2 linked regions of the Homo sapiens genome follow. The protein of the gene in region 1 purifies or fractionates together with the protein of each later gene. This does not show direct contact. Each region holds a gene or a part of one and is shown on either strand. Other genes may lie near its edges.

Region 1 (3,822 bases):
CTTCCCCTGGAGGCTCATAATTGGTATCTGGGGACTGTTCCCCAGAGCACTCTCCTGTGGGTTTCACTGCACCAGTCTCAGTTATTTTCTCAATGTCTAGATTGAGGTCCTGCTGAGCATCTTTATCACAAATCTGATGAACATCATGCTTTGGTGTTCTTTCTGTAGTTTCTGAAGTATGTTCTTTTGATATGTCACAGCTCTCATTTCGGCCTTGAATAGCCTGTAATTATAATACATAACAAGCATGCATTTTATTTTTCAAAAAGAATCAAAATAGAATAGATTTAGTTATTACTTTTTAGAAACTGATGCGTGGCCTCTGCTAAACACATCTCTTAAAGTGGTGAATTTCCCACTACATCTTTCTCTCTTCATTCAAATGTTCAACATACTTATACGTTCAGTAAGTGGCCCCTATGGGCAAGACACTGGGGTTAGGCATTTATCTTGAAGACAAACCCTTCGGCTCAATTACAATTTGTAATGTATTTAAATTTCATATTTTTCCCTTGCTAAGAATATTCAGGTAGCCTAAATATGAAATCTCTTTGTAATTATTAAATAAGAGGCTAACAAAATGCTCAGCTTCCACCTTCAGCATTTATGATACTCTTTAATAAGGCAGTAAAGTTTCATAACCAGATTCCCAGTCCAAGGACTTAATCCCCAATCCAGCACTTACTGTACATTATTGGATAAATTACATATTTGAGCCTCACTTTCCTCTCATCTGTAAACTGGGGATCTGCTGTTGCACCTACACCTGCCATCACCTCACCATGACCTGCCTTCTCTACCTCACAGAGATAGACAGAGGAAATCAAGTGACATGCATACACTATATAGCATTATTAATTAAGCTAGCAGGCTAGAAAGGACAAAGTTACAAGCAATTAAACAAATATGTATTCAATTTTTTAAAAGCCCTTTTAAATGACTTATACCAAATCATATTTTTGTACCACAGTAAATTGTTAGAGAGAAAACTGTTTAGTAATACATAAAGAATCTGCTGTATTTAGTTTCATGACGATAATGCCATAACATCAAAAATAGTCTGAAAAGTGGGAGAGATTAAAAATTTACATATTACCATTTGTAAGTTCTTAATTATTTCAGTATACTTTATTAATGCACAAAGGGTGGAAACACACATTCTAAAGACTTTCTGACTCCATAATATAATTTTCTCCAGACTTTAAAAACATCTTTAGTAATATTCTATATAATGCTATGTAAATCTAATCCCTATAGAAATTTATTCCTCAAATAACGTTTACTCATTTTCCTCAAGTTCTGGTTTGTTTTGAAAATATTTTGGTGTATTTTATTTCCTTGAACCCTAAAAATATTTTAACTTAGGTTTAATGTACATTTCAATTAGACAAACATTTACTGAGTGTCCACTAGTCATGTAAACCGAGAAATGGCATTTAAATCCCAGGTACTTACATCTTCTGTGTCGATGCCAAGCAAAGACCGAGAACTTAAGTCCAGACCTTGTAGCTGGAGTCGTGCTACTTCCAGCTCAAGTGACAGTTGTTCCGTCTGTTTCTTTTCTGCCGCCAACTTGGACTCCATCTCCAGAGTCACGCTTGTCAGCTTCTGTTGCCACTGTTCATTTTCTGACAAATACTGCTTCCTAAGGCAGTCAAGCTCTTGCCTTTCAGAACTTAATAACTGCTCGAGCTCTTGAATTTCCTTATTTTTCATAATCCCTTGACTTTCCATTTTCTCTTCTAGCTTCTCGAGGGACTGCCGGTACACCTCACAGAGGGACTCAAGCTCTTCAACACCCTTCGCTGGGGCCGAAGGGGTTTCTTTCCTGGTCAGATTCTCCTCCTGCAGACTGCTGCAAAATACTTCATCTACACTGCACTGGTTTGCTGAAACAGCCCCTTCTAAATTACTCAAAAGAGACATATCTCCTGTCTGTTCTAAAAGAGCTCTGTAAAAGGAGGAGTCTCCCAAACTGCTAAGACTAGAGCTGTCAGGCACACAAGAGGATGACAGGGATGGAACGAGCCCCTCCTCCAAGCCCAGCTGCATCTCCTTCACCAAGTCACCTTGAAAGTTTCTCAGATTCGTTGACAAGACCAAATTTTCGGCCTTTAATGAGTCAACATAGGTCTGCAGCTCTGACATTTTAGAGCTCATCTGACAGTGCTGATCATGTAAAATTTTGTGTTCACTTTGTAAAGATAAGAATTTCTCTTGCAATTCGGCAAAGTGCATTTGAACTTCTTTGTCTGACAATGTCAAGTGCTCGTAGGAATTACTCTCGTCCAATGGAGCCAAAGACACAGGGTGCTGTTCATTTGGTTGTTCACCAAATTCACCTCCTGGTATGTCTTCCACTAACTCACCATGGAGAAGACCACTGTCATCATTTAATATTTTAACTTCATTTAGTAGTTTCCCTACCTCTTCTGCCATTTTCCTAGTTGCTGTGATACATTCTGACCTTGAATCATTCAGCTCAGTTACGAGTTCATACTTTTCAGCCTGCAGTATTTCACATATTTTCTCTAGCTCATTCAGCTTGTTCATTGTTGTTTGCAGAGAGCACTGAAGGTGTGCATTGTCGTTTTGACTTGTTGACAACTCATGAGGCCCTGAAATATACTTTTCTTCCGCATCTATTTCACAGTCTTTAAGGCCACTAATTTCTTGTGACTGCATGTCTTGCAAATTGCTGGTTTCAAGATCTCCTCTAATTGTCTGTAATTCATGCTGCAGGCACTCCTTCTCCTTCTCACTTTCCTGAAGTTTTAATTCCTTATTTCTTAGCATAGCTTCTAATTGCACCAACTGCGCATTATAACTATCTAGAGAAATTTCTTTAACTTCAAGATCCATCTGAGGTTTAAAATTACATTGATTTCTCTCACTCTCTCTTTCTTTCACAGAGTTCCTAATTGGTTCTGATTCTAGATTTTGACATTCATGTTTAGTCTTCATTACCTTCATCAGCTGTTCATTCTCTTGTAATAAGTCATTAACTTCCTTTTGCATTTTGTTTTGTTCTTCCTTTAAAGTCATGATTTCTTGCTTTAAACCACCAGCCTCGCTCTTAGAATTGTTTTGGTTATCTGTCATCTCAGATCTCAGAGCTTGCTGCACTGTCTCCAACTCTAGCATCAGATTCTGATTTCTTTCTTCAGCAAATGCTAATTTTGTTAAGAATTCTTGGTGTTCCTTTGCAAATGCTTCCTTTAGCTGTTCCAACTCATTTTTCCTATTTTCACAAAGACTAGTGCATTCATTTAGCAAGCATTCTAATTTAGAATTCTTTTCCTGTGCTGCTTTGTATTTTTGACTAAGATCCTCATATGCATTTCCGGTTTCTTCACATCTTTGTAGTAAAATAAGTTTTTCTTGCTTGTACTGATCAGATAACTCTGAAATGCTTTTCTCCCTTTCATCTATATAGTTTGCAAAACTCTCACTTTTCTGGATTAAGTTCATCTTCTCTTGATTTAAGGATGCATTAATTTCCTTAAGAGTCCCATTCTCTTGGGTCAGCTCTTCAATTTCCCTTTTATTTAGAGAAATGATGGAACTCATTTCTTTCTTCTCCAAGCTTAGGGTTTCGGATAAAAGTTGTAGCTCCTTTAGAGAGTCTTCAAGTAGATGGTTGCTCTTTTTTAATTCTTGAATCTCTGCCTGCTCAGTTTCTACCTTATCATTTAAAAGTTGCAGCTCTTTTTCCTTGTTCTCAAGGGCACTTAAGGTTTCAGCAACAACATTCTGGTGAGCAGAAGTGTCTTCCTGTAACTTACTAATGCGCTGACTTGTTTCAGCCACAAAACTTTGATG
Region 2 (3,822 bases), on another chromosome or scaffold:
AACCTTCTAGTGATACTGTATCAAATACCATTGCCATAACCACAACTAATTAGCTTAAGGAAAAATATATTATAGACAGAAGACCAGATGAAGACACAGGAGGAAGACAGCCATCTGTAAGCCAAGAGAAGAGGCTTCAGAGAAAACCAACCCTGCCAAGACCTTTAACTCAGACATCTAGGCTCCAGAATTGTGAGAAAATAAATTTATGTTGTTGCCTATAATCCCAGCACTTTGAGAGGCTGAGGCGGTAGGATCACTTGTGTCCAGGAGTTTGAGACCAGCCTGGGCTGGTCTTTGTAGACCCTGTCTCTATAAAGAAATAAAAAATTAGGCTGGGCACAGTGGCTTACGCCTGTAATCTCAGGACTTTGGGAGGCTGAGGAGGACGGATCACTTGAGGTCAGGAGTTCGAGATCAGCCTGGCCAAAATGGTGAAACCTCTCTCTACTAAAAATACAAAAATTAGCCAGGCGTGGTGGTGGGCACCTGTAATCTCAGCTACTCAGGAGACTGAGGCAGGAGAATCACTTGAATACAGCAGGTAGAGGTTGCAGTGAGCCGAGATTGCACCACTGCACTCCAGTCTGGGCAACAGAGTGAGACTCCGTCTAAAAAAAAAAATAAATAAATAAATAAATAAATAAAAAATTAGCTGGCGGCCAGGCGCAGTGGCTCACACCTGTAATCCCAGCACTTTGGGAGGCCAAGGCGGGTGGATCACCCATGGTCAGGAGTTTGAGACAAGCCTGGCCAACATGGCAAAACCCCGTTTCTACTAAAAATACAAAAATTAGCCGGGTGTGGTAGCAGACGCCTATAATCCCAGCTACTCTGGAGACTGAGGCAGGAGAATCATTTAAACCTGGGAGGCGGAGGTTGCAGTGAACCAAGATCCCATCACTCCACTCCAGTCTGGGTGACAGAGCGAGACTCCATCTCAAAAAAAAAAAAAAAAAATTAGCTAGGCATGGTGGTACATGCCTGCAGTCCCAACTATTCAGGAGGCTGAGGCTGCAGAATTGCTTAAGCCTGGGAGGTTAAGGCTGCAGTGAGCCATGATTGTGCCACTGCATTTCTGCATTTAGCCTGGGTGACAGAGTGACTGTTTTTTTTTTTGTTTTTTTTTTTTAGACGGAGTCTTGCTCTGTAGCCCAGGCTGGAGTGCAATGGTGCGATCTCAGCTCACTGCAAACTCTGCCTCCCGGGTTCAAGCGATTCTCCTGCCTCAGCCTCTCAAGTAGCTGGGATTACAGGTGTGCACCACCATACCCAACTAATTTTTGTATTTTTAGTAGAGACGAGGTTTCACCATGTTGGCCAGGCTGGTCTTGAACTCCTGACCTCGTGATCTGCCCGCCTCGGCCTCTCAAAGTGCTAGGATTATAGGCATGAGCCACCGCGCCCGGCAACAGAGTGAGACTCTTGTCTCAAAAAACACACACACAAAAATCTGTTGTTTAAGCTACTCTCTCAAGAAAAAAAGACAGAAAGAAAGAAAAGAAAAACATAATGACGTTCAGAAACAGGAAGAAATGGTTTCCTTCATCTTGCTAAAGTGAAAAGCTACTTGTCACAAAGCTCAATGCCATTTTACCAGCTTCTCCAGGATCATCCTCACGTAACATAACAGCACTGATAGTTACATCTTCTGTTATACTGTGGGGCTCTGTGTTTGTGAACAGCCCGGAACGCTGTGATGAAAATGCAGCTGCCCAGTTACTGTCATCCAGATTAGTAACCTTAAAAAAAAACAAAAAAGTAAAAATACAGAAAAGTGATGGAGTTATTGTCACTGAGTGGATACTTTAAAAACAAATAAGGTTTCTAAAAATTATATGTATGTATGCGTCTTTTTTTTTTTTTTTCCCTTCTTGAGATAAGGTCTGGATCTGTTGCCCAGGCTGGAGTTCAGTGGCACGATCATGGCTCAACGCAACCTTTGCCTCTCAGGCTCAAGCCATCTTCCCACTTCAGCCTCCCAAGTAGCTGGGACTACAGGCACGTGCCACCACGCCTGGCTAATTTTTGTATTTTTGGTAGGTATGGGGTTTCACCATGTTGGCCAGGCTGGTCTCAAATTCCTGGCCTCATGTGATCCACCTGCCTCAGCCTCCCAAAATGCTGGGATTACAGATGTGAGCCACCATGCCCGGCTACTATAGTGTATTTTTAATACTTAGGTGAAGTCATTCTGCATCACAGCTTACATAACATTTCTTTTGCTATTTTTAATACTGTTCCATAGTGATTCCTAAAGAGTATCTCACCTACTTTTTCCAATTTTCTCTTTTATCCCCTTTAATACATTTTATCTCTTCCTTAAGATATTCTTCATCTGTTAACCTCTGATTCCTACTCTTGTATGCTTCAAAACAGGGATCAGATTTTATAGCCATCAGCAACCAACCACAGCATGTACTTCTTCTGGTCAGCAAACTGACAGATTAAAACATCTTATTTTCATCTAAAGGTTGCTGGTGTCACAGTTTCCATCTGTGATATCAGATGCATAAGGTTTTCAGTTTTTTTACTGTCTAATTATTTCAATCCATATAACCTAAAGTTACTGTTATGATGATTCTGACTCAATATTTGTTAAAAGACTTTTACATCAAATATCATATTTTTATAAAAAGGGAGAAGTTCTTTTTTCTCTTTTTTTTTTCTTTTGCAATCACAGGTCACTGCAACCTCTGCCTCCTGGGTTCAAGCAATTCTCACACCTCAGCCTCCCGAGCAGCTAGGATTACAGGCATAAGCCACCACTCCCAGCTAATTTTTTTATTGTTAGTAGAGACAGGGTTTTATCATGCTAAGCAGGCTAGTCTCAAACTCCTGACTTCTGGGAGGCCAAGGCGGGAGAATCACTTGAGGTCAGGAGTTCAGGGAGTGCTGAGATTACAGATGTGAGCCACCACACTCGACCCAAAAGGAGTTCTTAGCCCTATTTTTCTACATACCATGGAGAGATTTCCAAAGAACCCTGAAGACTGCGTAAGTCGGGGCGACTTCCCTCCTGTTCCAAGAATGCAGGAAATATCTGGCTGCCTTAGTAAGCTTCGGCTTGTTGGGGTAACTATAAACAAAAGGTTGGTAGAAAGAACCTAAAGTGCGTGAGCATTCATTATCAAAACAAAGTAAGCAAACAAACAATGAAGAATAAATTTTTCAGTTTTCCATTATTTAGACTCTAACCAAATAAATACTTTAAATGTTAACATTTCCATGATACAAGGATTTAACTTATTTTTCTAAATTTGAGCTGTAGGTACTACTGAGCCTAACAGGAAACATTTTACTGCAATTACAGATGCTTTCATTATAGAATAACTGAGCAGTTAAAGACACTAATCAGTCAACGGATTCTTCATATTTTAATTTTATAAGGCATACTGAGGCAGTGCAGTGTAGTGGGCATAAACTTTGGAGTAAACAGATCATTGTTTGAATCCCAGTTCCATTATTTACATACTCTTTTTTTTCTGTCTCAGAACAAAAAAAGAGTATGTAAATAATGGAACTGGGATTTTTTTTTTTTTTGCTCTGTCGCCCCAGCTGGAGTACAGTGGCACAATCTCAGCTCACTGCAACCTCTGCCTTCCGGGTTCAAGCAATTCTCCTGCCTCACCCTCCGGAGTAGCTGGGATTACAGGCATGTGCCACCACGCCAGCTAATTTTTGTATTTTTAGTAGAGATAGGGTTTTGCCATGTTGGCCAAGCTAGTCTTGAACTCCTGGCCTTAAGTGATCCACCCACCTTGGCCTCCCAAAGTGTTGAGATTATAGGCATGGGCCACTGCATCCAGCCTATTTACATAC

The links.
Region 2: the proteins of CENPF (region 1) and NUP107 purify together in Homo sapiens (affinity purification with western blotting; one study listed by BioGRID and IntAct). This does not show direct contact.

What each region holds. Positions count from the first base shown.
Region 1 is NC_000001.11:214,640,958-214,644,779, reverse strand, and holds part of CENPF (centromere protein F), read right to left. Parts: coding exon 1,456-3,822; intron 224-1,455; coding exon 1-223. UniProt on the Homo sapiens protein: Required for kinetochore function and chromosome segregation in mitosis. Required for kinetochore localization of dynein, LIS1, NDE1 and NDEL1.
Region 2 is NC_000012.12:68,689,888-68,693,709, reverse strand, and holds part of NUP107 (nuclear pore complex protein Nup107), read right to left. Parts: intron 3,108-3,822; coding exon of another isoform or gene 3,080-3,107; coding exon 2,964-3,079; intron 1,743-2,963; coding exon 1,598-1,742; intron 1-1,597. UniProt on the Homo sapiens protein: Plays a role in the nuclear pore complex (NPC) assembly and/or maintenance. Required for the assembly of peripheral proteins into the NPC. May anchor NUP62 to the NPC. Involved in nephrogenesis.